Linked DNA regions of Homo sapiens. The protein of the gene in region 3 interacts with the protein of the main gene of each other region in a pairwise test. Each region holds a gene or a part of one and is shown on either strand. Other genes may lie near its edges.

Evidence for each region.
Region 1: the proteins of SMC3 (region 3) and TRAF3IP1 interact in a two-hybrid assay, tested with the Homo sapiens proteins (2 studies listed by BioGRID and IntAct).
Region 2: the proteins of SMC3 (region 3) and MTNR1B interact in a two-hybrid assay, tested with the Homo sapiens proteins (one large-scale study listed by BioGRID and IntAct).
Region 4: the proteins of SMC3 (region 3) and CEP63 interact in a two-hybrid assay, tested with the Homo sapiens proteins (2 studies listed by BioGRID and IntAct).

What each region holds. Positions count from the first base shown.
Region 1 is NC_000002.12:238,395,167-238,403,067, reverse strand, and holds the end of TRAF3IP1 (TRAF3-interacting protein 1), read right to left. Parts: intron 5,610-7,901; coding exon 5,389-5,609; intron 4,315-5,388; coding exon 4,149-4,314; 3' UTR 2,171-4,148; downstream 1-2,170.
Region 2 is NC_000011.10:92,968,250-92,976,150, forward strand, and holds the start of MTNR1B (melatonin receptor type 1B), read left to right. Parts: upstream 1-1,401; 5' UTR 1,402-1,476; coding exon 1,477-1,699; intron 1,700-7,901.
Region 3 is NC_000010.11:110,600,591-110,608,491, forward strand, and holds the end of SMC3 (structural maintenance of chromosomes protein 3), read left to right. Parts: intron 1-431; coding exon 432-540; intron 541-1,046; coding exon 1,047-1,294; intron 1,295-1,375; coding exon 1,376-1,588; intron 1,589-1,883; coding exon 1,884-2,075; intron 2,076-2,234; coding exon 2,235-2,412; intron 2,413-2,593; coding exon 2,594-2,700; intron 2,701-3,640; coding exon 3,641-3,712; 3' UTR 3,713-5,458; downstream 5,459-7,901. UniProt on the Homo sapiens protein: Central component of cohesin, a complex required for chromosome cohesion during the cell cycle. The cohesin complex may form a large proteinaceous ring within which sister chromatids can be trapped.
Region 4 is NC_000003.12:134,558,836-134,566,473, reverse strand, and holds the end of CEP63 (centrosomal protein of 63 kDa), read right to left. Parts: intron 7,325-7,638; coding exon 7,045-7,324; intron 5,098-7,044; coding exon 4,939-5,097; 3' UTR 1,443-4,938; downstream 1-1,442. UniProt on the Homo sapiens protein: Required for normal spindle assembly.

The DNA.
Region 1 (7,901 bases), on a different chromosome or scaffold from region 3:
TAATATGTGTAATTTAACTTTCTTTTGAACTCCATTTTCTTAACAGAAAGACCAATTTGCTTGGTTTAAGAAACTGATAACCAATTTGGAATTCAGCTCTATATATGGATTTAAAAACAAGTTTTATGTATTATTATTATTATTATTATTATTATTATTATTATTATTATTTTAGAGTGGGTCTTGCTCTGTCACCCAGCCTGGCATGCAGTGGCATGACTATGACTCACTGCAGCCTCAACCTCCTAGGCTCAAGTGATCCTTCCATCTCAGCCTCCTGAGTAACCGGGACTACTGGCACACACCACCATGCCCGGCTTTTTTGTTTATTTTGATGGGGTCTCACTCACTATGTTGCCAGGGCTGGTCGCGAACTCCTGGGCTCAAGTGAGTCTCACGTCTCGGCCTCCCAAAATACTGGGATTACAGGCATGAGCCACCACGGCTGGCCAAAACAAGTTTTATAGTTTTTGTTTTTGTTTTTTTTTTTTTTGAGACAGAGTCTCACTCTTTTACACAGGCTGGAGTACAGTGGCACAATCTCGGCTCACTGCAACCTCTGCCTCCCTGGTTCAAGCAATTCTTCTGCCTCAGCCTCCCAAGTAGCTGGGATTACAGGCACCCACCACCACGCCTGGCTAATTTTTTTTATTTTTAGCAGAGACAGGGTTTCACCATGTTGGCCAGGCTGGTCTCGAACTCCTGACCTCAGGTGATCTGCCTGCCTTGGCCTCCCAAAGTGCTGGGATTACAGGCGTGAGCCACCACACCCGGTCAAGTTCTACAGCTTTAAAAGACATTTAAATTTCTCTTGCTGAATTTAAAAGAAACCAAAGTCCCTCCCAATATCCCTTTATGAAAATACACATAATCAAAAAGGGGTTCTGACTAGGGGGCTTCACTAATGCCCCAATGTAAAGCTTGCATAAACCATACTTATTGAAACACCTTTTAGGAAAATATAAAACATTTTTATTAATAAAGTGTATCCTATGATAGAGTTAAACTCAGAGCCCAAATGTAGCAAGTAGTTACATTTGAGAATCACTGAGAACAGCTATTCCTTCTCCTCCGACTTAGGCTGGCTCATGCTTGACTTAGAATTTTTCTTACTTCTGCTTTGCTACATTAGTCTTTGCTGGAGAGCCCCTCAGAGGAGCCCACAGTGGTCTACGTAGAGGCGCCATGAACAAGGTTATTTACTCTCTGCACTTTCGGGTGTGGAAAGAAGAGTCCAGAGTGGGGAGCCAAGTCCAGGTCTGGGTGTTTAGTGTCTTCCCTGACGGTGACATGCTGAGCCTTGATCCTGCTTGGGCGTGGCCTCCTTCTGAAGCAGGTTCCTGCGGAAGCTCAAACAGGCTGCTCATCCTGCTTGCTGCTGGCTCACACTGGCTACTGATCCCAAAGCTGCTCAAAGGCCCTGGCCATCTTTTCTCTTACTCGTGTGCCATGACACTGTGCACATCGACCAACAGAAGATAAACCCCATCAGTCCAGGGCAGCTCAGAAGACTAGCACCGGAATAGTTCGGGGGCACTCGTTAATACACTGACTAGAATTCCATATCACCCAAATCCTAAGTAGCACTTCATGTCACCAAGTGACATCATTTTTCTTCATAGATTTCAGTTTTTAAAAGTTGATTATTAAAAAGAAAAATAAGGATGAATATCAAAGTAGAAAGCTGCATTTTAGTCTTGAACTATTTCTTCCAAAGGTCTATTATGCATTTCCTTTGAATATAAATTATCATCAGCTCAACTTTTAAATTCAAATTCCTGAAGTATGACTCCAGTACTCCCTGAAAACTTATAAACCAAAGTATAGAAAAATACTTAATAATCCCATTTGTGTATTGTCTCAAAATAAGAGAAAAATTAAATTTCTCAAATTAAGATCAGGATCTAGTGTGTAGGATAAGATACAGTAACAATCACGTGTAGAGACCTTCTAAAACTTCACAAATGATCTTACAATTTCTGATAAATGCTTACCTATCTTATAAAACTTCAATTCATACTGAAAAGAGATGTGTCACAATATGAATGAAAAGATGTATTTCCCTGAACTTTCCTCACGAGAAAAACAAAACACACACATTTGAAAATAAAAAATCCAAATGCTTATGATTTTTCCATGTGTGAATCGAACTGCACAATCCATACACTTATGGAAAAAATATGTGATTATTTTTAATGATTTACGTATAAAAGAAAAATAAACTTTATGATACAATTTGACAGACTACTTCATAAAAAATTTTACTTACATACAATGTATGCAATTTTTGGCAACCCCCAAACTCTATTCACATATACAAATTCATAAAAGGCAGACATCTCAACTTGAAGTAAAACAAGGTCCATTCAGGGTCATGGCTAAGTCATTTGATTCAGTAGAAAAGAGATTATAAATACATGAAGGGCTACTTAACTCATGTCCCTCCACTCCCCCAAAATGTATGTAATATAATCTGATCAAACAGAATTTTATGGTGCACTATAGGAAGGAGAAAAAGACCAGCGTTTCAGAATGGCAGATCTTAATAATCTGCTCCTGAACTTATTCAGCTCAGAAAATCATATAACAACCTGAGTACAGAATTTATTTTGGAAATTGTATGAAGAAAAACCCAACGGTGCCATTTGTGCTAATCCTTAAAGAAACAAAACCTGGCCGGGTGCAGTGGCTCATGCCTGTAATCCCAGCACTTTGGGAGGCCGAGGCAGGCGGATCACGAGGTCAGGAGGTGGAGACCATCCTGGTCAACACGGTGAAACCCCATCTCTACTGAAAATACAAAAATTAGCTGGGCATGGTGGCGTGCGCCTGTAGTCCCAGTTACTCAGGAGGCTGAGGCAGGAGAATCACTTGAACTCGGGAGGCGGTGGTTGCAGTGAGCCGAGATTGCGCCACTGCACTCCAGCCTGGGCGACAGAGTAAGACTCCATCTCAAAAAAAAAAAAAAAAGAAAGAAACAAAACCTTTTCAGGCAATCCTCACACTTTAAATGGCACTCCTCAGTTTACATAATAAATACACTATTTAAAAGTATTAGGACCCAGACCTCAAGACCCATAAGTATGTCTTCAAACACAATGAAATGTTTTATACAGTAACTTAAGACTCTGCTAAGTATTTACAATAGTATATGTAAGTGAAAAACTATAAACCATGTTTTTAAAAAACTTTTGCTTTAAAAAACAATTTCCAAAAAAATGGCTAACATCAAAAAACGTCGTAAATCAGTGCATCCTTTTAAGTCTTCCTTATGTTGTTTTTCCTAAGCTGCCTGTCTCTCGGTATGCACACCCATGCAAAGGAAAAGCCATGGCGCCAATGCTTTGCAGAGCGAGACCCTCTTAAGGAGAACAAGGACTCCGGGGGGCTGCGCTAGCCTCTGTCTGAGGAAAACCAGGGTAAACTGCGGAAGAAAGTGAGGATGTATGTCCAGACAACGTCCATAAAGGCCATCCTGAAATCTCCTTTTTAAATTTATGAACTTTAAGGACTAGAAACACAAGCAAACGATAGTAGAGATCAAGAGGAAAATTACATAGAGAAGTACATGCAATTACAAAGAGGTCAAAAAACAAAAATGAAAACAATCCAGTTGATAGGTACCTGATATGGAGACAGGCTGAGGTTAGCCCTTTCCATTGGAAATTAACTAAAAATATAATGTATTCATTTTCAGGCCTCATTCTACTTATCAAGTGCCTATCAAAAAGTACACAGTCATCCTTCATTCGGCACTGACCTCTGAAAGTCTTTCCACTAAACCAAAATAAAGGACTACTGTTCCCTTGGTATGCCCACACCACTTACCTGCTAGAGAGTTCTGGTACAGAACTAAACAGGTTACAGCAGAAACACAAAGAACAGGCTTTCAAAAAAACTTTTCACAGAGGTGTTTGGAAGCGCTATTTATAACTAGCCAGTATTCCATCTGGAAGGAGGTAAGAAAACATGGTTTTTTTAATACACTTAACATGCTTACAGTTTTAAAGCTCTGAAAATTAGCTGGATAATAACATTGTAAACTGTTCATTTTCTTAGCAAACTGGAACTTAAAAGAGTAATGATTTTCTATCTTCCTTTTTGCTTTTAAACTGAGGTGACTTTTCATCTCTGAAACTTTTGAGTGTTCACCTTCTCGAAGTCAAATTGATACTATATACCATTTTCTGGATTTTTTCTTCATTCTTGAGGATGTTGGCCTTCACAGCACAGATCTTGTCTTGCTGGTCTTTGATCAGCTGCTCCAGCTCCGCGAGCTCAGCCTTTAAGGGCTCCACGGCACAGTCTGTGATCCTGAGGGAGAACAAAACCAGCGGCTCATCACTCTCTCATCTCATTGTGTGTTGGCTTCTTAATTAAGACATTGAAAGACAACAGAAGTAAATTATTCGTTTCATCCAAAGAAAAGGATAATATTTATTTCTTATTTTCACAACCCCTGCTACAACCAAAAGTGAAGTCAAACATGAGATTTATAAAAGCAGCAGTTAATATTTCTTCAATGATAATCTTGAAGTCCTTAAATTACATACAGAACAACCTCTGGGACAAGGAGGTATGCAGCAAAGTCCCCATTGACTTTGGGGATCCCCCCTCCACTACCCCCCACCTATGTTCCTGCCGCAGGGCCTCTTCCCCATTACTGCCCCACTCCGCTACACCCCTACCTCTGCTCCTGCTGCAGGGCCCCCTCCCCATTACCCTCCTGCCCCACCCCAACCTGTTCCTGCTGCAGGGCCTCCTCCCCCATTACTCCCCCCACTCCGCTATCCCCTACCTGTGCTCCTGCTGCAGGGCCCCCTCCCCATTACTCCCTGCCTCTGCTACCCTTAACCTCTGCTCCTGCTGCAGGCCTCCTCCCATTATCCCCCTGCTCCCCCCCACCTCTCTCCTGCTGCAGGGCCCCTCCCCATTATCTTCCCCTCACCTCTGCTCCTGCTGCAGGGCCCCCTCCCCATTACTTCCCCTCACCTCTGCTCCTGCTGCAGGCCCCCCTCCCCATTACTTCCCCTCACCTCTGCTCCTGCTGCAGGGCCCCCTCCCCATTACTTCCCCTCACCTCTGCTCCTGCTGCAGGGCCCCCTCCCCATTACTACACCCCACCTCAGCTCCTGCTGCAGGGCCCCCTCCCCATTACTACACCCCACCTCTGCTCCTGCTGCAGGGCCCCCTCCCCATTACTACCCCTCACCTCTGCTCCTGCTGCAGGGCCCCCTCCCCATTACTACCCCTCACCTCTGCTCCTGCTGCAGGGCCCCCTCCCCATTACTACCCCCCACCTCTGCTCCTGCTGCAGGGCCCCCTCCCCATTACTACCCCCCACCTCTGCTCCTGCTGCAGGGCCCCCTCCCCATTACTACCCCCCACCTCTGCTCCTGCTGCAGGGCCTCGGCGTGCTGCCTGTTCTCGCTGTGCCACATCTGCAGCTCATTCTGCATGGCATCCACGTCTTCCTGGATGTAGTCCATGATCTTCCCCAGGGGAAGTGCGCTCTTGCACAGGGTCTGGATGGACGTGCGGAGCTTCTCTATCTCCTTGGAAACGATGTCCTTCTCCTTCTTCCATGCCGACTCAAAGAGAGATCGCTCCTACAGTCAGGGAGACATAGGAAGAGGAACACGCCTCCTCAGTCCAAAGGCAGAACAGGGCCGGTGCACTCAGCACACGGCCATGGGGCTGGGAGGAAAGGCGCAGGCAGAGACAGTGCTGGTTGTGGGACACTCACTCCCATGCAAAGGGAGAGCCATGCTGCCTAACAGAGTAACTCTGAAGTGCTGCACGCCATCAGAGGACACAGCACTGCCAGGGAGGGGCCGCTCCTTCCCTGCTCAATGGGGATGGGGGTCTGTCTTTACCTGGAAATCCATCTGAGGGCAAATCTCTATACAGGCAGATTTCAGTTCCCAACTAACAAGCAACTTTTGTAGCTATTGTTACAAGAGCTTAGTGACATGGAAGATTTTTCCCAAATGGACTGGCAGAATGAGGGCCTGACCCTACAGCTCTTCAAATGGCCCACCTTCCATCCCAAATGACTTCAAAACCCAGCTTGCCAGGGGGCAAGGGGAAAGAAACCCAAAGGAGAGGCAGAAACTGGTGCCATGGAAAGGAGGGCATGGAGAATGTGCAGGGCAGCCAGCGCCAGCAGCAGCCAGCAGCAGCCAGCAGCACCCAGCAGGCAGATGGTCAGGTCGACTTAGACGTGACTGTGCTGGCCGCTCAGGGAGGCCACAGAGTCCAGGGGTCAGGGGCCAGATGGAAGGGGTCAAGTTGAGACAGCAGCAGGTGAAGGAGGTGAGGAGGACGCAGAGACGAGTGGGGAGCTGCATGCGGTTTGGGCCAGGAGTTCTTGGGTTCTTTGCCATGCAACATTTAGAATTCTCTTCATATGAGCTTTGATCACAGACATCTCTGAATGTCAGAAACTGATGTGAGTTGATAAGAATCAATAAGCTTGGGAAAATTAACATCAGTTCTTTCTCCTTCTTTCCTTTTTTTTTTTAATTTTTTTATTATTATTATACTTTAAGTTTTAGGGTACATGTACACAATGTGCAGGTTTGTTACATATGTATACATGTGCCATGTTGGTGTGCTGCACCCATTAACTCGTCATTTAACATTAGGTATATCTCCTAATGCTATCCCTCCCCCCTCCCCCCACCCCACAACAGGCCCCGGATTGTGATGTTCCCCTTCCTGTGTCCATGTGTTCTCATTGTTCAATTCCCACCTATGAGTGAGAACATGCAGTGTTTGGTTTTTTGTCCTTGCGACAGTTTGCTGAGAATGATGGTTTCTAGTTTCATCCATGTCCCTACAAAGGACATGAACTCATCATTTTTAATGGCTGCATAGTATTCCATGGTGTATATATGCCACATTTTCTTAATCCAGTCTATCGTTGTTGGACATTTGGGTTGGTTCCAAGTCTTTGCTATTGTGAATAGTGCCGCAATAAACATACGTGTGCATGTATCTTTATAGCAGCATGATTTATAATCCTTTGGGTATATACCCAGTAATGGGATGGCTGGGTCAAATGGTATTTCTAGTTCTAGATCCCTGAGGAATCGCCACACTGACTTCCCCAATGGTTGAACTAGTTTACAGTCCCACCAACAGTGTAAAAGTGTTCCTATTTCTCCACATCCTCTCCAGCACCTGTTGTTTCCTGATTTTTTAATGATCGCCATTCTAACTGGTGTGAGATGGTATCTCATTGTGGTTTTGATTTGCATATCTCTGATGGCCAGTGATGATAAGCATTTTTTCATGTGTTTTTTGGCTGCGTAAATGTCTTCTTTTGAGAAGTGTGTGTTCATATCCTTTGCCCACTTTTTGATGGGGTTGTTTTTTTTTTGTAAATTTGTTTGAGTTCATTGTAGATTCTGGATATTAGCCCTTTGTCAGATGAGAAGGTTGCGAAAATTTTCTCTAATTTTGTAGGTTGCCTGTTCACCCTGATGGTAGTTTCTTTTGCTGTGCAGAAGCTCTTTAGTTTAATTAGATCCCATTTGTCAATTTTGGCTTTTGTTGCCATTGCTTTTGGTGTTTTAGACATGAAGTCCTTGCCCATGTCTATGTCCTGAATGGTATTGCCTAGGTTTTCTTCTAGGGTTTTTATGGTTTTAGGTCTAACATGTAGTCTTTAATCCATTTTGAATTGATTTTTGTATAAGGTGTAAGGAAGGGATCCAATTTCAGCTTTCTACATATGGCTAGCCAGTTTTCCCAGCACCATTTATTAAATAGGGAAACATTTCCCCATTGCTTGTTTTTGTCAGGTTTGTCAAAGATCAGATGGTTATCTTCTTCCCTTTCTTTCTTCTCTCTCTCTTTCTTTACAGCCAGGGTCTCACTATGTTGCCCAGGCTACT
Region 2 (7,901 bases), on a different chromosome or scaffold from region 3:
AATTTTTTGGTGTTTGTTTCTCAATACCCACCCTCAAATGTAACCACTTTTCTGATTTCTATTAGAAAATAGATTAATTTTCCCTGATTTTGGACTTCCTATAACTGGAATAATATGGTATATATTTTTTGGTATCTGGCTTCTTTTGTTCAATACAACATATTTGTGATTAATCCATGCTGTTGTGTAGGTCAATCATCTTTATTGCTGAGTAGTATTCCATTGCAAGGTCATACCATAATTTGCTTATCCATTCTTCTGTTGGTGGAAATTGCAGGTGTTACCAGATTTGAGCTCCTATAAACAAGGCTGCTCTGGACATTCTTGTACAGGTCTTTTGGTGGAAATATACTTTCCTTTTCATTTGGAACTTCTGGTCATAGAATAGGTGTATATTTAACTTTATTAGGAGCTAACAGACAGCTCTTCAAAGTGGCTATACCATTTTGCATTCTCATAAAAGCAGTGTATGAGGGTTCTGGTTGCTTAACTTCCTCCACAAATATAGGATAATCAGTCATTTTGATTTTAGTGATTCTAATGGGTGTGAAAAGTGCTTTGGGGTCATAAGATTAGCCCCCATTAGAAGTTATCTATTATTATTATCACCAGATCACGACTCAAACATTTTTAATAAAGGGCACCTGAGTTCCTTCTTTATTGTAATCATGCCTCAATCTTCTTCTTGTCCTAACCCCTCCAAAAACCACATCATAACCCCCAATATTGGCCATACATCTATTTAAGTATTATGTGTAAATATATGTTGGTAAATATGTTAAAGTATTGGCTTTATAAAGAGGACCCAGTAGAGACATCATCAATGCCCCCCACAATACCCAGCGAGTGCTTGGAAAATGGCTAGGTTCGTATTTTTCTGCAGCTCCCTAGAATATAACAGTCTACCCTACTTTGTTCTGGGCTCTGTCCCCACATCTTAGGAGTTGCATTCTCTTTCGGGCTGCACAGCCCTATGGGACGTCAAACCTTGCCTTTCTTGACAACTGATGGGAGGTCCCTACCATCAGCACCTTCTCCAGTCTATCAACCTGGGTTGGACGTCCCTACCTAGACACAGCTTCTCTTGGGGACGCTGTGGAGGAAATCGGGGTCTCGGGTGTGGCTATATACTCAGGGACAGAAGCTAGACGCGCTCCGCAGCCTGAGGTGGGCCAGGCACCTGCTGGGCTCGGGGTGGCAGAGACAGCTGTGCGGTCCCAGCTGTTCCTGAGCGCACCGCTGAGGGACGCACTCCCTTCTACAACGGCTGCACCCCAAGTCCTCCTCCCATTCCTATATTTTTCTCCATCCCCTGCCCACGCTTAATTAGTTATCTCCTCCAGACCCCTCCCCACTGGCCTCCTCCCTTGCACACGCGAGCTGGGCAGGGAAGAGAGCGCCCGGCTCAGTACTGCGCGCGCCCTGCGGCTGTCCGGGGCCGCGCGGTGGCCAAAGCACAGCGCGGGAGAGTCTGCGATGTCAGAGAACGGCTCCTTCGCCAACTGCTGCGAGGCGGGCGGGTGGGCAGTGCGCCCGGGCTGGTCGGGGGCTGGCAGCGCGCGGCCCTCCAGGACCCCTCGACCTCCCTGGGTGGCTCCAGCGCTGTCCGCGGTGCTCATCGTCACCACCGCCGTGGACGTCGTGGGCAACCTCCTGGTGATCCTCTCCGTGCTCAGGAACCGCAAGCTCCGGAACGCAGGTGAGCACCATTCCTGATGCTGGGTGCTGGCATCGGGCCCTTCCTTGTCTTCTGATCTTGTCCCTGACCCCGGGATATGCGCTGCCTTTTCCCTCCTCAGCCCGGGCTCCCCTTTCCCTTCACTCTAACCTATTCCTTAAGTTTGACTCTGCACTCAAAAGTTAGGGTGAGTTTTGCCCCTCCGAAGTGCGGCTGCCCAGGACGCGCTTGGCACAGAGGGAATTGCGGAAAGTTTTACTGGCGCGCTTTTTGGCCGGGCGCCGGCGCTGTGGGAACCCACGCTGCTGGATGCCATCGCTACCCCGTCGCGCTCCAATGCGTGTCTTTCCAGAGGTGCCCACATCAGGCCACAGAAATCTCACCACCTGTACTTGACATCCCACTTCCTTCCTTGCCAAGCACTGTAGCTTTATGTAGTAGTCGCTTAGAAAATCCTTGCTGAAAAAATGAGTTAATCAATGGAAGCATTTCAGTAGGTTTTGTGTCAAAAACTTATCTCCAGGTCATCTGAAGACCCAATTCCAGTTGACGGAGAGTAAATGCAGAAATTGCAGATTCTGCTTGGACTGAACTAAATTGCTTTGAAATATTGTGGTCTTTTCCGAAGACTGGGAATTCCTGGGATTAACTGTGAAAATTAAAGCAATGATTTGGCTAAATCGTGTTGTAATCCTGAAAATATTTTTCCTATTTCAATCCACTCTCATTTCAATATTCCCCTAGTCAGGTCTTCAAAGAAACAAAACCAGAGTGGGGGGCAGTATCTGAACTCTAGCCCTCACAGGTCATGGGGCATGATGACCACTTCAGCTTAGGAAGGAGCTCAGTCACCTGTTTGTTAATTTTGCAGTTTCTTCAAGTTGGGCCTTGGGAGCAAATTCAAATATTAGAGTGAATTAAAATGGAAAGATAGCAGCAGTAAAACAACCATATAGCTTAAAAATGCTTTTCTAAGGAGTCAGACCATTTTTAGCAAATAGTAATATGTATTTGGTGTGGCCTGTGACTCTAGAAATTTTTTTTTTTTGAGATGGAGTCTCTCACTCTGTCACCCAGGCTGGAGTGCAGTGGCATGGTCTAGGCTCACTGCAACCTCTGCCTCCCAGGTTCAAGGGATTCTCTTGCCTCAGCCTCCCGAGTAGCTGGGATTACAGGCGCTCGCCACTACACCCAGGTAATTTTTTATATTTTTGGTAGACACAGTATTTCACCATGTTGGCCAGGCTGGTCTCGAACTCCTGACCTCAAGTGATCCACCCGCCTCGGCCTCCCAAAGTGCTGGAATTACAGGCATGAGCCACTGCGCCCGGCCAACTCTAGGATTTTTAGCTAAAAAAACAAACAAGAAACTCCTCCAACTGTGAGTATCCAGCCATCATATGGGAAACATAACATTATTAAGAAGAAGTAAACTTTCTAACTCACTTCAGTAGTGGTGGCTGTTTTCTGGAATACATTGTTCAAAATATTGTGTCCTTTGAAGAAAAGCTTATATATTAGGGAAAAACAGGTTATGATTAGAAAACTGCATTTAATATTTTTGACACATTGTCCCTTGCAGCCATCATAAACATTCATTTCCAGCACAGGGAAGCAAAAGGGAGACAACTCCTGGCTCTATGGGGGAGAAATGGGTCCTCCTGGTTCTGACATTGGCCCCTTCTGTCCCTGACTTATTGAGTATTTAGAGCAGGTCTGTCAGGCCATGGCTCCCTGCTCAGTAATTTGGATTGCCCACCATGAGAAAGGTGGTTGAGGGAAGTAGGAGTTGCTTCCTTTTGCTGGAAGGAGAAAAGCACCCCTCCCCTCCTGCATCCTACAGAGGGCTGGCCTTTTCTGTGATCCTGGCAGGGTCTGCAGAAACCTAACCAGTTTAAGAGCATCACTGGGGAGGGTCATGAGCATGTTAAATTGCTGGCATATCCTCTGTTCTATCTTTCCTACCTCCTGATGTGTCCGCTACAGCCCAGCACCCGAACAAAAAAAAATAATAATAACACTATATCTAAATGACATCAATTCCTGCCACTGCTGCAGTCTTGCAATTTAACCAGTTCTTATGTGACCTCTGGCTTTATTGGTGACAGTCACAAACAATTGTAGTACTGACTTGAACTAAATGATCTCAGCAGAGTGAGATTTCAAAAGGCGCTTAAAACCTACAGCTCTTTGAATAGTTAGCACACATTCTACTCTTAATCAGGCCTTGTCTTACTGAAGAGTTTGGATTTAATTTAAGAAACGCTTCTTCAGACCTTTCTGTACTTAAGTCTGGCTCCTTAAATCATTGGTATTAAAAAATTAAGTCTGTAACAATGAGAATACATATATTTCCAATAACCAAGATACATAGCCCATATTGAGGTCACAGCATGTTTCCCAGGAGACACCAGTATCCTTTACTTGCCTATCACAAACCCAGTTCCTCTATGGAGCAGATCTGTATCATTCCTAACAGTGCCGCTCCTGATGGCAGGGTGAGTGGTTAGATTAATTGTCTTTTTTTTTTCAGGGATATCCTATCTGTAGTGTCTGTTGCTGCATGTGGTGGGTTGACTTCAGAGATAGCACCAGAGAAAGGCAGACAGGGAGGAGTGGAGGCAAGGTGGGAGGTAGGGTCAGGGCACCGACCCAACTTAAAAGGTAAGGCCAAGTGTGTTCACTCTTTGCTACATTCTCAGAGTCTTGCACAGCCCATGGCACTGGGTTGGCACCTCACGCCTGTCAGATTGTGCTTCCCAGGGACTTGCCACACTTTTGACTCTACTGAGAGCCGTTGAGAACTTTCCCTCCTGGGCTCACCACTGCTGCCCTGACCCTTGAGCTACACCTCGCTAATATTTATCTCTTGCATTTTTGAGCTCTTCCTTTCTCTCTTCTGGAAACTTCCTCCATGTTACACACACACACGATACACAAAGTCTCCTGTTTTAAAAGAACAAAAGACTCTTTTCTTGACTTCATGTCCTCCTAACTTCATCACTACCTCTCTCCCTCCCTTTTCAGCCAGACATTTTAATGTAGTTGTGGACATCTACTGGTTCTACCCCATTGCTTCCCGTCCTTCCTCAGTCCTCTGGGCGCCATTCTCTGGAAATGTTCCTCTGTGCTGTGTGTGACACTGAGGGCCACTCCCTCTGTGGGACCTTTCATTCCCTCGGCTAACCTGGTGCTAGTTTTTGGATCTCCTTTTTCTCTTCATCTCCCGGATACCTGTGCCCTGAAAGTCATCTTTGGTTCCTCCTACTCTTTCATTCCACATGTCCTAATGATTTTACCTTCCACTATTTCTCAATTTCTCCCTTTCCTGCCTCCTTATTCTTACTGCCCCACTTCATGCCTTCATCATCTCTTGAGCAAACACTATCCATAGTGCTTGAGAGCTTTTCCTGCTCCCTCCCCCAGCCACTGTTACCACTGCCAAGAGTTTCCCTGTCTTCAGTGGCTGCCCTCCATCTCCAGAACAGTGTCCAACTCCAGAGCACAGCTCCCACGGCCATTTGCGGCTGGCCTAGCCCACCTAACTTACAGCCTCATTGCCCTCCTCTCACCAGTGTCACAGTGAGCTGCTGCTACTTCCCAAAGGGTCTGCACTCCCTGATGTACTTTCTCTACCTCTTCTGCCCAGTCAACAGCTGCTCCTCCTTCAACTCCTTCCCCAACTCCCCTGAAGGATTATCAATGTTGATTATTAATACCATGAAGGGGATAGTAAGTGTCTCCCTTGTTGGGCTTCTAAGATACCTGTGCCCTCCCCAGTACAGCATCCCCCTCACTGTACTATTGTTCTTTGTCTCTCCCCGCTGGACCGTGTACCTGCTGAGAGCAGACACTTTCATTCAGTTTCTGTCCACAGAGCCAGACACATAGTAAGAACAGAACACATCTCTGATTAAATTGGAAATGGATAAGACACCAGGTAGTGGGGGAAAATTAATTGATTTTGCTCCATGAGCTGGGATAGACCTCAGTTACAGTACTCAGCACTGCATAAGTAATCAATACAGGTTTTCATGAAACTGAACTGCTTTGAGAACAGCCCAAAGTATATCTCATGTTAAGCTGACTATTGGCACCTTCTGCATGAAGGCATGCTTGTTCTGTGATTCTCCTGTGTGAGTAAAGTTGCTCAGCAGTTTCCAGCCATGCCATGGTTGTACCCTACTGATTCCTCTTGGGGAGTTTGCCCCTGATATGCTTTGGCTGTGTCCCTACCCATGTCTCATCTTGAATTCCCACATGTTGTGGGAGGGACCTGGTGGGAGGTAATTGAATCATGAGAGCAAGTCTTTCCCATGCTGTTCTCACAATAGTGAATAAGTCTCATGAGATCTGATGGAAAAAGAGAAACTCCCCTGCACAAGCTCTCTCTCTTTGCCTGCTGCCAGCCACATAAGACATGACTTGCTCTTCCTTGCCTTCCACCATGATTGGGAGGCTTCCCCAGCCATGTAGAACTGTAAGCCCAATGAAACCTTTCTTTTGTAAGTTGTACAGCCTTGGGTATGTCTTTTGTTGTTGTTGTTTTTTGTGAGACAGAGTTTCACTCTTGTTGCCCAGGCTGGAGTGCAATGGCATGATCTCGGCTTACTGCAACCTCTCCTGCCTCAGCCTCCTGAGTAGCTGGGATTACAGGCATGAGCCACCACACCTGGCTAATTTTTTTTTTTTCTGAGACAGAGTCTTGCTGTCGCCCAGGCTGGAGTGCAGTAGCGCAATCTCGGCTCACTGCAAGCTCCGCCCCCTGGGGTTCATGCCATTCTCTTGCCTCAGCCTCCCGAGTAGCTGGGACTACAGGCGACCGCCACCTCGCCCGGCTAATTTTTTGTATTTTTAGTAGAGACAGGGTTTCACCGTGTTAGCCAGGATGGTCTCGATCTCCTGACCTCGTGATCCGCCCGCCTTGGCCTCCCAAAGTGCTGGGATTACAGGCGTGAGCCACCGCGCCCGGCCTAATTTTGTATTTTTTAGTAGAGATGGTGTTTCTCCATGTTGGTCAGGCTGGTCTCAAACTCCTGACCTCAGGTGATCCACCCACCTCAGCCTCCCAAAGTGCTGGGATGACAGGTGTGAGCCACTGTGCCCGGCCTTGGGTATGTCTTTATCAGCAGCGTGAAAACAGACTAATACAGCCCCTTTCTTGGTCTGGCCCGAGGTGGCCACTTTTAAGCTGCCTGTAATATGCTGGCCATATAAGAGAGCTGAGAGAACCATGTCCTCACTGTAACACCCAAGTACTCTCCACTATCAGAGAGGAAGTCATAACAACACCAGTTATTCCTGGCTCCATAGGCACAGCCACCTTAATTTTCCAAGTAGCAGTCAGAAGCTGTGGTCTGACAATGGATTTTTGTGCTGCAAATGGGTTAAAGAGGCTGTCTGGGAGGTTTAGTGAGTGCACGAATTGGCATTTCTGGGGTACGTTGATGATTGGTAAAGCAGAAATATATGAACTATTTGATGTTAAGATTGCCTAGGAAAACATGGAGGATTTGCTTGCTGAACACACAGATCTTTGTCCAAGGTCACTCTGTCTATGCTGGCAAAGCTGCCCCTCCTCCAGGCCCCCAGTGATGCTAAGAATTCACACCATCTCCTATCCAGAACCAGTAACTGCCTGGGAGGTTCCTGATGGGAATATTCTGCCTATGCAGGTGCTTTGCTTCCCCGGTTAGATTAGAAAACAGTCTGCACTGTGGCCCCTGTTCCTTGCCTCCTCTCTTCCAACTTGTTGACTGAGACAGCAAATGATGCTTAATAAGCAGCATGGTTCTGAACAAAGGCTCTGGAAGGCCTAGAGTGAAATGCTTAATAGGCCCACAGCCCCTACCCTCCAAGTTATAGAATGAAGTGGAGCCCACTCCATCAAGGCTTCTATCCTACCACCGACCACTCATTGAGATGTCACTTGGCATCAGGTGTCTTTTGACTTGCTCAGCCTGCAATGTTTAGAGTGCCATTATCAGCCCAAGACCAAACTGGGTAACCTTGGACTCCTTCCTGAATGTTTCTTAAGCTGTCCAACTTTGCATTTCAGCTGTGAATACCTTATTGCCTCTTCACTGAGCAAAAATGAACAGTTTTTAAATCCCATAATTATGTCTTTAGCTGAATAATCAGGAAAGCTAATAATCCTCTTTAATTCCTCCCATGTAACTTTCAGTAGCTCAAGGGTATAAAGACTTTAATGTTTGCCTGTCTT
Region 3 (7,901 bases):
CCATGACCTATTGCAAGTGGTTATATCAGAGGCTCTGATTGAAAGCATGGGCTTTGGGGACAGAAAGCTTAGTGTCTTGTGGGCCTTGGGTTGGAATTCTGCCACCTAGTGTGTGATTTTGGACAAGTCACTATTTCTAAGCCTCAGTTTCTTGTGTGAATTAAGCATTATCATACTTGTTTTATATAATTGCTATCCTGACACATTCTAAGTACTTTGTTAATATTTTTTCAGTGGTGGTTAGATGCTTAGAAATTTTCTAGTAATTGTGTCTTTTTTTTCTTCCCTTTAATGGATACTTCTAAGTATTTGTAATTATATGATGTATTTATATTTTTTTGTTTTCTTGAATGTTTATTCAGACAATAGCCATAGAAAATGTTGGCAGTCATAACATTTGAAACTAATGGAATTTGTATTTTTTGTTACAGGAACTTAATGAGCTGAGAGAGACAGAAGGGGGTACTGTTCTCACAGCCACAACATCAGAACTTGAAGCCATCAATAAAAGAGTAAAAGACACTATGGCACGATCAGAAGGTGAATTTTTATGTAGTAAAATTTTGTTTATATGCATGTTTTATAAAATTGTTTACTACAGAATGAAATGTCCAAATAGGCAGAAGCATATGCTAATGATTTTTTGTTTTCCATTATAAACAATGTATAGCAAATGGAATTTAGGAAGTTGACTATAAATAGTAACTTTTGTTTTACTGAAATGTTTATGACAATTTTGAGACCATAAATGATTCATTTTGTTGATAAAATATGAAATACCTGACGAAAGTTTCTCATCACTTAGTTGTTAGAAAATAACTATAGTTTATAAGCATTAACATTGAATAATGAAAATTATATATTTGAGTGACTCATATATACTTCTAATTTTGTACTGACTTAACATGGTTCATAAATTTTCACAGAAAATTTTAAACACAAAACCTAAAACCTATTTTGGTAGGTTTGATCATAAAAATCTATACTCAACATATAACACTGGCTTTATAGGTATTATAGCCTAATTTTGTTTCCCCCCATCTTAGATTTGGACAATTCCATTGATAAAACAGAAGCTGGAATTAAGGAGCTTCAGAAGAGTATGGAGCGCTGGAAAAATATGGAAAAAGAACATATGGATGCTATAAATCATGATACTAAAGAACTGGAAAAGATGACAAATCGGCAAGGCATGCTATTGAAGAAGAAAGAAGAGTGTATGAAGAAAATTCGAGAACTTGGATCACTTCCCCAGGAAGCATTTGAAAAGTACCAGACACTGAGCCTCAAACAGGTTGGTTTTAAATTTGAAGTCTTGTTACAAATTGCTCAGTATATAAATTTATTTATATGAATACATATTTTCTCTTTATAGTTGTTTCGAAAACTTGAGCAGTGCAACACAGAATTAAAGAAGTACAGCCATGTTAACAAAAAGGCTTTGGATCAGTTTGTAAATTTCTCCGAGCAGAAAGAAAAGTTAATAAAGCGTCAAGAAGAGTTAGATAGGGGTTACAAATCAATCATGGAACTGATGAATGTACTTGAACTTCGGAAATATGAAGCTATTCAGTTAACTTTCAAACAGGTATGTTTCGCTTTGTAGTTAAAACATACACACAGAGGACAAAAGCTTCCAGCTCTTTTCAGTTTGTAAAGATTTTAAAGCTGTTTTCCTCATTACCAGGTGAATCTAATACATGTGAACAAACCTAGCATATAGGTTTACAGTAACTTGAATGTTTTACACAGCCCTTAGAAGGATCTAGTCTGTTATCCTTGTTCTTAAGATTAAAAAATAATTGGTTGCTTTTAAATATTTTACTTAAGTGTTATATATAATTCTAAGCAAAATTTATATTTCAATCTGCTTTTGTTTTAAGGTATCTAAGAACTTCAGTGAAGTATTCCAGAAGTTAGTACCTGGTGGCAAAGCTACTTTGGTGATGAAGAAAGGAGATGTGGAGGGCAGTCAGTCTCAAGATGAAGGAGAAGGGAGTGGTGAGAGTGAGAGGGGTTCTGGCTCACAAAGCAGTGTCCCATCAGTTGACCAGTTTACTGGAGTTGGAATTAGGGTAAAATACCTTTATATTCCATTTTCCTCAGAGCATTACCATAATAGAATTTATAGTATCTTTTGCAAATCTGATTGGTGCATTATATGCAAGTTACTTTTGAAAGATGGTGGTGATTCTGCCCTTTAGGATATTAACTCATAATATGTTTATTTTTAGGTGTCATTTACAGGAAAACAAGGTGAAATGAGAGAAATGCAACAGCTTTCAGGTGGACAGAAATCCTTGGTAGCCCTTGCTCTGATTTTTGCCATTCAGAAATGTGACCCGGCTCCATTTTACTTGTTTGATGAAATTGACCAGGCTCTGGATGCTCAGCACAGAAAGGCTGTGTCAGGTACAGTTTCAGTACAGTTTTGGTTTTGTATTTAACAATAAGCTGGTAATATTTGCTGATGTATATATGAAAAAATCAAACTCAGGCAGTTTTGAATTTTAGTAAGAGTAAAGATAGTTGCTTTTTAAATTTTCAGATCTGCTGAAAAGAAATTTGTTAAAGCACAATTTTCTTTTTACAGATATGATTATGGAACTTGCTGTACATGCTCAGTTTATTACAACTACTTTTAGGCCTGAACTGCTTGAGTCAGCTGACAAATTCTATGGTGTAAAGTTCAGAAATAAGGTAATTTTATTTTACATTGAGTTTAAGTTTGTATTTATTCAATTATATTTGTTGAATTCTGATTTTATGTTACTTAAATAGTGAAAGAAAACTTAGAAAGTCTTTGCTTATCTGATGTCTTTGTAAAGAAAGAACTTTTCCTTCAAATAACTATGAAGTTTAGCAGTATTTTATGGCGTTGCATTGGTTTTATTTTCATTGGCATTAATAAACAATATCTTTCTGTCCAGTCTATTCAATGCTTCTGTAATGCACAGTCTTTAACAATTATATATGTTCATTTGTATAGACTGCATAGCTCTTCCTGGGTGTCTTCCCAACCTTAAAATTCTTGATGAAATAGCAAAGTAATAGAAAGTGAACAAAAAGGTAGTTTAGATGTTTAGGCATGATATTTATTTCTTCAGAGCATTAAAATACATATTTTTTAAATCTATGCATTGAACAAACACCACTGTAAATAAAGGTTTTATAAGTCAGTGCTTCAGAATTATTTTCCTTCATATGTAAAATATAGGTGATAGGCCGGGCGCAATGGCTCATGCCTGTAATCCCAGCACTTTGGGAGGCCAAGGCAGGTAGATAACCAGGTCAGGAGTTTGAGACCAACGTGGCCAGTATGGTGAAACCCCCGTCTCTACTAAAAATACAAAAATTAGCTGGGCATGCTGGCGTGCACCTGTCGTCCCAGCTACTTGGGAGTCTGAGGCAGAATAATTGCTTGAACCTGGGAGGCGGAGGTAGCAGTGAGCCAAGATGGTGCCACTGCACTCCAGCCTGGGCAACAGAGCAAGACTCCATCTCAAAAAAAAAAAAAAAAAAAAAAACTAAAAATTAAAAAATGTAGTTAAATGTAGTTGATAGGCTGTATATATTTACCCTATACAATGTAAACACTGATGTAATTAACAGATTTTTGTTTTTAACATTTATTCTTCAGGTTAGTCATATTGATGTGATCACAGCAGAGATGGCCAAAGACTTTGTAGAAGATGATACCACACATGGTTAATTGGAAAATACTACCTACTGGTTTGGGAGATGTATATAGTAATATGATTCTCATACCCAGGAACTGTAAATTTAAACCTAAATATTTGGCCAATAGTTTTCAGACTTAAAGCATCATAGTCCTTTTATATTTGTCTTTGTATTTTATAAGATACTCTGTAATGTCATGTTTGTACTGATAGTTTAAGAATTTAATTTCCTGTACAACTTTTTGTAAAATGTTCTGCTCCTATTTTAAATGTTTTGAAACATGCTAAATATTCTTTCCTAATTATTTTATCACTTATACTACCTTTTTTATAGCTTCAATTAAATAATCGGTTTTATGACTAATATAGTGTTTTATGTGGCTTTTCATTTGTCATAGTCTCTTCCAGTGAGAACACTAATCAGATTGGATGTAAGGCCTCATTTTAACTTAATCACCTCTTTAAAAGACCTGTCTCCAAATACAGTTAAATTTGAGGTATTGAGGGTTAGGACTTCAACATGTGAGTTTGGGAAGGGAAGCACAAAATCAGCCCCTACCATGGTATATTTATCATTGATACATTACTATCAACTAAGCTCAAGATTTTATTCAGATTTGACTAGTTTTTCCACTAAGGCCCTTTTTCTTTTCTAGGATCCCACAGAGGATACATTACATTTACTTACATCTCCTCTAGTCTGTGACAATTTCTCTGTCATTGTTTATCATATCTTGACAATTTTGAATAATATTCACATATTTTGTAGAATGTCCCTCAAATTAGGTTTGTCTAATATTTTTCTCATGGTTAGATTGGAGCTAATACCACAGAAGCGAAGTATTCTCATTACCTCATATAATAGTACATATTATTAACATGTTTTATCACTGATGTTTACCTTGATCACCTACCCAACATTGTACTTGCCAGGTTTCTTTGTTGTGAAGTTACATTTTTTTCCCTTTCCATACTACTCTTTTCTTTGAAAGTAGGTCTTTAAGCACTGGGGGTCTCCTGTGACCCTGGAAAACTACCTCAATAGTCCTCGTAGCTTTTTGTAGATTCTTTGAGATTTTCTACATAGACAGTCATGTCATTTGCAAGAAAGAGGCAGTTTTATTTCTTCCTTTTCAAATATTTACCTTTAATTTCTTTTTCTTGATTTCCCCTGGCCTGAGTTTATACTGGTTATCTGCAGGAGAATTTGTTAGGAGCTACTCTTCCATCATTGGAAACCAGAAATACCTAAAGAGATACTTTTAAAATAAAGAAATAGTAATGGGACTTTAAATTGAATTTAAAAATGTGAGTTTACTTTGGGTTTTCATTTTGACTGGCTGAATCTTTAAATGTTCGGTGTATTATTTATACTTTGTAGCTTTGCTATAACATAACTGATCTATAATAGAGAATTTGGTATATGTTCTATCTATGACTACATTCAAAGGGTTACGTAACTATAATATCTTTCTAATATTTCTACCATTTTTCTTACACATTTACCCAAGAATTTTTCTCAAACAACTACCTAAGAATATTCATCATGAATGCTTGGTGTATAGTTTACGATTTGTAGAGTTGCTCTGATATGACCAACCCCTTATAATACAGAATTTGGTGTAAGGTAAGTTCCAGGATTCAATTCAAGGGATGTTACAAACATAACATCATTCTAGAACTTCTTAATATTGTTCTTAAGCATTTCCCCAAGGATATTAGTATAATGAAATGCCAGTAAATTTATAACAATAAAGCATCTAAATAATGAAACAAAATTTTTGTAAAAGCCTATATTCTTTGCGATATCTTAGTCATGAATTAATTCTAATGAGACTGAATAGAAAAATGTGACAATCCTGAGCATGCTTAACCCAGAAACTTAGAGGAAGGACAGACATTTACCCAAGGAGTTAGCCAGTGATTCATAAGAAAATCTATGCTTCTCTTTGGCTGGATAGTCCTTTCCTCAGAGTAGTACTGATTCTTCCACTTTGAGATTTTGTTAATACTGTTACAAATACATTACATTCACCATAGTGGAATTGAAGAACATATATTTTAAGAGATGGTGGGGGGGGTCTCATCCCATCACCCACGCTGGAGTGCGGTGGCAGGATCACAGCTCACTGCAACCTTGAACTCCTGGGCTCAGGTGATCTTCTGCTTTGGCCTGCCAATATTAATATTTTGGGGCATTTCCTTCAAATCTTCATAAAAAGTTTTGTGGTTTATGTTTATTCTAGGTGTATAATTTTATATCTTAGATTTTTAATTTAGTAATAATATAAAATATTCCTGTTTTAATGCTTTGGAAACAAGATTTTAATAGTCATATACTATTCTGTCAAGTAGAAGTAGCATAATTTACTTAAATATCCCACTGGAGGCTTAGATCGTTTTCTTTTGGCTAAAGTACCAAAAATGAATTAAAAAACAGATCAACATTTTTATACATAAAACTCCCAACATTTAGGATTATTTTCCCAGCGTAGATTCCTAGAAGTCAGAGTGTGAATATTTGTAAGGATTTTTGTATACTCTTTATGCTCTTTTTGAAAAAAATGTAAAATATGAAATGGTTAGTATGTAGGTTAAGGATTTGTCTACTCAAAATTAGTGAAATAGTAATTTTAGAAAATGATGTAATTTATAGAAATAATTTTACTGTGAATAATATAATCAGTAGAAAAGGGAGAAATAGAAAGGGAGGATTTCTTTTTTAAGAGTAAGCAATAGCCGGTCGGGCACGGTGGTTCACGCCTGTAATCCCAGCACTTTGGGAGGCCAAGGTGGGTGGATCACAAGGTCAGGAGATCGAGACCATCCTGGCTAACCTGGTGAAATCCCGTCTCCACTAAAAATACAAAAGATTCTCCGGGCGTGGTGGTGGGCGTCTGTAGTCCCAGCTACTGTGGAGGCTGAGGCAGGAGAATGGCGGTAGCCCGGGAGGCAGAGCTTGCAGTGAGCCTAGATCGTGCCACTGCCCTCCAGCCTGGGCGACAGAGCGAGACTCCATCTCAAAAAAAAAAAAAAAAGCAATAGCAAACGGGTCTTTGGAAATATTTAGTTAATTCTTAAAAGGTGTTTCTCTTTTAACAACTATCTAGGCCAGGCGCGGTGGCTCGGTGCCTGTAATCACAGCACTTTGGGAAGCTGAGGCAGGCGGATCACTTAAGGTCAAGAGTTCAAGACCAGCCTGGCCAACATGGTGAAACCCTGTTTCTACTAAAAATTAGCCGGGTGAGGTGATGCGGGCCTATAGTCCCAGCTGCTTGGGAGGCTGAGGCAGGAGAATCATTTGAATCTGGGCGGTGGAGGTTGCAGTGAGCTGAGATCGCACCACTGCACTCCAGCCTGGGAGACACAGCGAGACTCCGTCAAAAAAAAAAAAAAACAAAAAAAAAACCAAAACTCTCTTAATAAAAGGACTAGTACTTTGATTCAGCTTCCCACAAAGGGAGAATACCAGTGTTTAAGTAAAGTGAACAGTATTCAGATTTCACTATCACCCAGCAAATGGTCTTACACAGGATACAGCTTCCAGTTGTTGGGTGCTTGCCACAGAGGTGCAGAGATTATGTTCTGTCTTAAAGATTTAAGAAATCATTTTCTTAAAAATTCTGCTAGGTATAGTGGTTCATACCTGTAATACCAACATTTTTAGAAGCTGGAGCAGGATGATCATTTGAGCCAGGAGTTTGAGACCAGCCTGTGCAATGTAGTGAGACCCGATTTCTACAAAAAATTTAAAAACTAGCTGGGTTTGGTGGCTACACCTGTAGTCCCAGCTACTTGGGAGGCTGAGGTGGAAGGGGTCACGAGCCTGGGAGGTTGAGGCTACAATGCGCCATGATCATGCCACTGCACTCCAGCCTGGCAACAGAGCAAGACCCTGTCTCAAAAAAAAAAAGTGTTATATTTACGAAATAATATTCATTCTGTATCTTTTTACTTAGGCGTATCTCCTTATCCTGGAACACTGATAATCCAGGTTTGTGTATTTATGCTTAGTCAGCTATCTTAAATGGAGGGAAGTGCAAATGGAACCAGTTGCACATTAATGCAGTTTAAATGGTAACAGCAAAGTGTTAGCCTGCTGTTAAAAGTTAGGAGGATCTTTCCTTCCCTACTTGGTATTTTTTTCTTTTTTTTTTTTTCTCTTTTTTTTTAAAGAGAAGATAGGGCCTTACTCTGTCGTTCGGGCTGGAGTGCAGTGGT
Region 4 (7,638 bases), on a different chromosome or scaffold from region 3:
GGGACAACTCTAGTCCCTAAAGCTATGGTTTTTAATCTCTTTTTGATTCACAGACACCTTCAAGATTCTAATGAAAATTATGAACCTTCTCCCCAGAAAAATGCACAATGCACATTTTTTGCATTTAATATTATTATATTACTATTATTAACATTAATAAATGTTTTGCATTTAATATCAAGGAGTTTTAGACCTTCCCCTATCAACTACTGCCTTACGTTCTTTTTGTAAGAGGAGTGCAAAAGTTCTTCTGACTGGATGATTGTCAAATAATTGAACCTGGTCTTAATGGGCAACATAAAATTCCCAAATTCTAGTTCCTCACAGAGAGGGAAAAAAAAAAAGATGTGAATTGTATGTCTGAATTATCAAAATTGCACTGCGGAGAAATAGCTTTTACAAAAGATTGGTTTAAAGCAGTCTATCATCCCTCTAAATTTTCCCTTTTCAGGCCATGAGAGCTTTACGCAATCATGTTTGTGGCCCTCTCAGAACAGTTTCCTCTGAATTTGGATGTCAGCCTTATGCCATCAACCCACAGTGAAGCATACTGTGGGGGGAGCTGTGCAGATTATTATTACCAGTTATGAAAATGTTGGACTTCTCTTCTGGATACTCACATACTTTACAAAACGCTTATTCAAACACACAAAAAAAATCTGTGCTTTTCTTAAGTCTATGATTTTTTTTTTTTTTTATCTTATGGGCACCATAAAACTTTTAGGTAAATGTTTTCTCCTCTGCTTTTCCCCCTCTGAAGCTCAGAGGTAACTTGGCTGCCTTCCTCTAGCAACTGGACTGGACAACTAGATTCATTAGTGAATCAATGTTTACAGCCCTCATTTTCCCTCTGCCCCGATTCTGTTTGTTACTTTTTGATGCATTTATACTATTTCAAACTGTTTTGGGACAAGCTGACACATTTCTAACTTTTTCTACATTTCAGTGCTGTTCATGACAACTGTTTGCTTAACGTATGTTCTCATGCCATAGAGCTTATTTTATAATTATCTTTCTTATCTGCAACTTTTAGGTACTGGACTCGAGTGTTTTGCAAACAGAAAATCATCACCCACAGTTTACCAGGTGTTATGTGTATGTAAGAGAGAGAAGGTAAGAATTGTTTGGGTTTAAGCAGATGTCACAGAAACAGAGTGTTGTAGTATTTTTTCTACACTTGTTGAGATCAAATGAGTCTGCAAGGGAAGGTAATGTCCAGCCCACAGTGGGAAGTCAACTTTGCCCTCTTCAGCTAAAATCTGCGTAGGAATCCAGATGAAAATTCATGGGAATCCAGGACAAGAAGAATGAGATGACTTGCCCAATAAAACATTATCTGTAAACACCAGATGTAGACTACAAATCCCTAATCTTTTCATCTCATTTGGGTACCCTGATCACGGACAGATTTTGGAAAATGTGTGTTAAGACACTAACTCAGATTTAGTCTTGACACATTTTAATATTTGGTATTAATATATCTTTTTGAAAAATGGTGAGACATTAAATTACAGTCAAATGTTCTGACAAATTTGGACAACCCATTAACTATTAGATACTTCAGCTTTAAAAAACAGTATAATTTAAGGAAATACATAGTACCTCATGATTCCTTAAGTATTTCCGGTGACTACAGAGTCTGTCATTGTTCCTCCTAGTCAACACGTAGTACAAACGTTTCAGAAACGGGCTGCAGTCTACAGATTTTAAGCTGAAGCTTGGGACTGTCTAAAACTCAGAAATCTCCTGAATGTAACAGCAATGCACATAGGTACAGTACTTAAAACTGCAAAGCCCTTTCAAATATATATTTTCAGTAAATCTTCTCGACCCCATTAGATATTATTTCAGTTTTACTGATAAATACAATGAAGCCTTGAATGGTAGTGATTTTCATCCACCCAATATTTGCTTAGGATCTGTTATGTGTTAGGCAGCATGCTGACTGAGGATGTAGGCAGGACTTAGCCCCTGAAAGACAGAAATCAAAGCGGATAGCAAAGTCTGGTCAGAGCCACACACAGGGTGCCATGACAGCAATGAGGAGAAACGTTCCCTGACATGGGTCAGGGGATATGGGAAAGCTTTGCCAAGCCAGATAAAGTAGCCAAGTAAAGGGGGAGTTTTAGGAGCACATGACAGGGTGTGGGAAGAGGAGACAAACTGAAGGACAGCATGCACACCAACACAAAAGAAACGATGTGGTGCACCTCAGGAATGGCATTTTCCATTGGTTCAAACTAGCTGAGCCTCTCCTAAGTGTTGGGCTTGTGCTGGGTGATGAGGATCCCACCATGAACCAGAGAAGCAAAGTCCTTGCCCTCAAGGAGTTTTAATTCTAAAGACAGAAATAGACAGTACAAACATAAATCAAGTAATGAAATGATTTCAGATAGTAGTGAGCACTATGAAGCAAGTAACACAGGCCAATGAGCTAGAGAAATGGGGAGAAACAGGTTTGGGAGGCAGCAATCAAAGAAGGCTTGCTCAGGAGAGGATGCCAGAGTGCAGGTCTGCAAGGGGGAAAACGCCAATCAAAGGTGAGGTAAGAGAAAGGGAATATTCAGGGTAAACTGCAAATGAAAGACCCGAACAGGTTAAAGCTTGCTGCACTCAATAAACAGAAAGGACGCCAGCATGGGTGGAGCACAGTAAAGGATGATGCAATGGGTGATTAGGCCCAGATTATTGACACTCTGTAGGCTATACTAATTCATTTGGATTTTATTCTGAGTGCAGTAAGAAGCCTTGGGGCTGGGTGCAGTGGCTCACGCTTATAACCCAGCACTTTGGGAAGCTCAGGCGGGTGGATCACTTGAGGTCAGGAGTTCGAGATCAGCCTGACCAACATGGTGAAACCCTGTTCCTACTAAAAATACAAAAATTAGCTGGGCCTGGTGGCATGCGCCTGTAATCCCAGCTACTCGGGAAGCTAAGGCAGGAGAATCACTTGAGCCCGGGAGGTGGAGGTTGCAGAGAGCCGAGATCCTGCCACTGTACTGCAGCTTGGGCGACAGAGTGAGACTCTGTCTCAATAAAAAAAAAAAGAGAAGCCTTGGAAGAGTCTGAAGGGAAGCAGTGGTGACACTGTTTCATTTACATTTCTAAAGGATAACTCCAGAAGCTCCCTGAATTACTGGTGTGAGTACTATCAGTTAGGAGGCTACTGCCAGAATCAGGGTGAGAGAGAAGTAGTCTGGATCAGGTGGTAGAAGTGCAGGAGGGAAACGGTTGGGTCTGAGATAAGATTCTGGGGGAAGAAATGACAGGACCTCCCAAATGACTGGATATGCGGATGTGGGTAAGGAAGGAATTATAAGTAACTCCTAGGAACTGGCAAACATAATGCTATGTCCTGATATGGAATCTTAGCAAGAGGGAGAATAAAGAGTTCTCTCTTGGAAACAAGATGTTTGTCAGATATCCAAGTGAAGACATCGCATAAGCAGCTAGGTATCTAAGACAGCAGCTCTGGGGAGAGGTCAAGATTAGTAATAAATGTAAGGGTCACTGGCCTATAGGTGGTATTAAGAGCTTGAGAATGGAATGGAAACTTCTAGGGAAGAGAATGCTGAGGGAGAAAACCCATGACAGAGCTCTAGGGGGCCCTCTGACTTAGAGGTTAGAAGAGGAAAAGCCATGAGATGGAGTGGAGGATGAGGTAGAGAGGAAACCAGAAGTTCCAGGTCACAGAAGCCAAGAGAGAGTCCAACTGTGCTGAATGATGCTCAGACACTGATTAGGTCACTGGTGAACTCAAGAGCAAGAAAGCAGTCTGGGGATGGAAGTGGTGTTGGAGAGGGTTAGGAAGAGAACTACGGTGGGGCGGGGTGAGGAACTGGAAAGAGTCACTGCAGACAACTCTTTCCAGAAGTGTTTGGGTGAAGGGAAGCAAACATACAGAGCAGTAAAAGAGAGGCATTAAAAAAAACTGAGGTTTTATTTAAAAAGGGGAAATAACAGGATGTTTTACGCTGATGGGAAAGATCCACTACAGAAAGAGGGTTCACAGAGGCCACACCCTTGAGCTGGCAAGTACACTACACTGACCTTTCTCATCTGTAACTGCACATTCTAGTTCCTTTGCTAGATCTATTTCCTGTGATCCTCAGATGCTGGCATCTTTCAGGGCCCCAAACCCAGCCTCCTGCTCCTCTCTCTCTCCACAGCCTCCCTGGTGGATCTTATCAACTCCCATCGTTTCAAATGCCTGCGGCACATCAACATCCAGATCTTTGTCTCCCATCTAAACTTGTCCTCAGCAGTGCAGACGATGAACATTTATTTCCAATGGATATTCCATGGGCACCGTGCATGACAGCCAGTCCCTTGCCCTCCCTGCCTCTCTCCTCTGCATGAGTGTTGAGCAAGAGAGGACTGCTTGATAAGGTTCTTTAGCACACCCCCCCCTTATTCACTACCAGCCTGACTTTACACACTACCAGCCCCTTGGCTAGGAGGGGCTACCAGCCCAGTAAATAACAAGCCCCGTTGGCTGGTAAGTGGCAAAACCAGTCTATCGATCCAGGTATGTTTGACCCCTAAATCCATGCTTCTACACATTTCCCCTAAAGAAAGTTCCTGCAGTTACTTTATTTTCAACATGTATCATAAAATCCTTATTTCAATTAGTACATAGCTATTCACATTTAAGTCAGCAAGGTAAGTATCACTTTATGATAATAAATATTCGTATGAGAAAAAAGTCTAGCAAAGTGGTTTATTCTTTCAACTTATTGCTGGAAGAAGTCCTTTAAACAAACCAGTGCAGAGAAAATGCCTATCAAAAGTATCAGTTTTTCAGCTTTCTTCACCACTGCTTTAGATGTATCATTTTTATAATTTTATCTCTTCATGTTTTTAAAGAGCTGCTACTTCAGATGACAGTAACTCTTTGGTGTTTATTTTTATTTCCAAGATAGTGATTTTTTTAAGAGGCTACTTTAAGGCTGTGAATTGTCTCACTGTCTTTTCACTCTCTCTTTTTAGTTCTTCAATATGGGCATCCAAGCGCTCTAGAATGTGATGAGACCTCAGTTCCTCCTCTTCCAAAAATCTGGTAGCTATTGAACCAAGGGGAGATACAGGCAAGGAACACTGGAAGAGACACAAATTTTGACATGTGTAAATAAGTAGAATATTATATTTCTAAGATACACTGTTCATGACATTTTCTAACTAGCAATATTAAAAGGTGATTTTTTTCCTCTGAAGATACTTTTTTGGTTTTCATCCTAATGACAAGAGCAATAAAAGAACAAAAATCAGTAAGTTCTGCAAAAATTAACACAGATCTCTCCGTTTCTGACCCAAATTGTAACAATGTAAAGTATCATATATTAGTTATTGGTCTGAAGAATGTTTCAATTTAGACTTATATATGCTTCCATAGTTAATGCCTATTATTTCAAACTCACTTTAAAAACCTAAGTATGTCACTTTTATTTTAAAGCACAAAAATTTAACAAAAATAAATTAGATGCCAGCTAAAATCAATTATTTTTTCTCCTCCAAATTTTCAGTCCACAGTCCCTTATCTGAAACCCTTGAGGCTAGTGATATTTCAGAATTCTGATTTTAGAAAGGTAACATAGAACATATGCCATATGCAGTCAATACTCATTCACAATAGCAGTAGTTGTGTTCTATAAAGTCACCCAAAACACTGAATTAGCAAACACAGAATTTTTGGCCCAGGGAAAATACACACATACAACAAATACACACACACACACATACACACATACCCCACACAGAGAGCATAATCCTAAATCCTAGAACAAATCATTCTGGTAGATTCTGTATTTTTTATTTCACATGAGAGACATGAGGTTCAGAAGTGGTAACTCTCCTGAGGCTGCCCCACTAACTGGTGCTGAAGCTGGGATTCAGACTCTATCCAGCTGGCATGGAGCTGAGCTTCTTTCCCTACACTGCGCTGTCCCGTCCATCTCCACCCTATGGTCACCTCCGCATAAGCAGGGGCAACAAGGCAGAGTGCTGCCTACTTCGACCTTGGCTGGGATTGTGCAAGTCGGTCACTCAAATTTTTTGTCACTCTGCATATGTCCACGAATTACTGTGGAAGTGCTGCGCATACTGATTTGGGAGTTACAGATAAAGTTTAGGGAGTAGACAAATTCACAAATACAAAATCTGTGAATAATGAGGATCAACTGTATTACCCCAGTGGAGTCTGAGGGAACATCCCATCACCAAACACACTGATATTTCTGAAGCAAAACACATGGATACTCACACTAAGTGGAATAGAGAAAGTCTATACATACTAACACATCAGTTCAGGCCAGGGAAAGTTCTGGTGCCAAAAAAATTTTGCTGCTAAACTTAGGAAGAAAGTGAAGTGAGGACTTATTTTGAAAAATAAAAGAAAACCTTTCCATGGACTTGGTAGCACATTAATAAGTCAGAAATACTGCACTTTCACATCTATATGGCCACAGCTGGTGACAGGAAATGAAGGGCCCATGGCAAGTGCTTTGGTGCAGAAGGCAAAAAGATGGTGCAGCCTGCCCAGCAATGGAAGGAGCAAGGGACCGGCATGGTGTCCAAGGCACATTCTGCCCTGAGGGCCACCATCTGTGACCCCCAAGCCATGCTCTGCACACATCAGAGGCACAGCCTTCCTCCCCCTCCACACTCCCTTTCTCCTTTCCAGCAGTTCCTCTTTTCCTCCTTCACTGCCTGTGCCTCAGGACTATCTTGGCATCCAGAGACAGTTCTTGAACTAACCATTCCAGAAGAAAATTGAGCATCACTGAAAAGGGCAAGAAGGGAATTTCCAATAAGGGTTAAAGACAAATGAATACGTATAACATATTTCAGAACATTTTGAAAAGTAGTCTTGGCCGAAAGTGTCTTCACAAGCAAAAACTGTATGACAGGGATACCTAAGAATAATGAAGAGTACTTATGATAAAAGAATCAGTAAGGAAAAAAAAATCACCTTCTTCACCCTTAAAATAAAAAATCAAAGCAAACTTAAAAAACTAACAAATTACTAAGATCAGAAAGTTTCCATACCGAAGATATAAACTCTTCTTGGTCATTCATACTCTCAGACATAGTGTCAGAAAAATTGGCTTCATTTGTATCTAGCGCTGAAGGCAAAGAATGAGTTTTACATAGAGAGTAGGAAGTCAAAGACCTGGTGGAGCTGCAAGGGCTGATTTGAGGACTCAGGGGGCTTAGCACCCTAGACATGGGGTTTATACTATCCGACGCTTGTCCTCTTGGAGAATGAAGATCTGTTTTGTAGTGCTCAGTCTTTATTCCATCATGTCTGTGCTGGCCATGGGTTGGCCTGGATGGTAGATTAGAAAACAAAACAAATAAAAAATTGTAGCAACTTTTCTCTTTCCAACAGAAATGTAGGAAATTTGCTTAATAGCCTAACTAATAAGGCTACAATTTACAAAATGAGCAACCTACTCAGATCAGAAAGAGATTTCTTTCATTCATTCAGGCCCCAAATATCCAATTCCAACTACCAAGTCCCTGCCCTCACACACTTATGGTATAGCAAGAAAGACAAACAAGCTGCCAGAGTAATCTAGTGTGGTTAGTGCTGGGACAGGAGAAGTGCTGTGCACATAAGAAGGCACCTAACCTAACTAG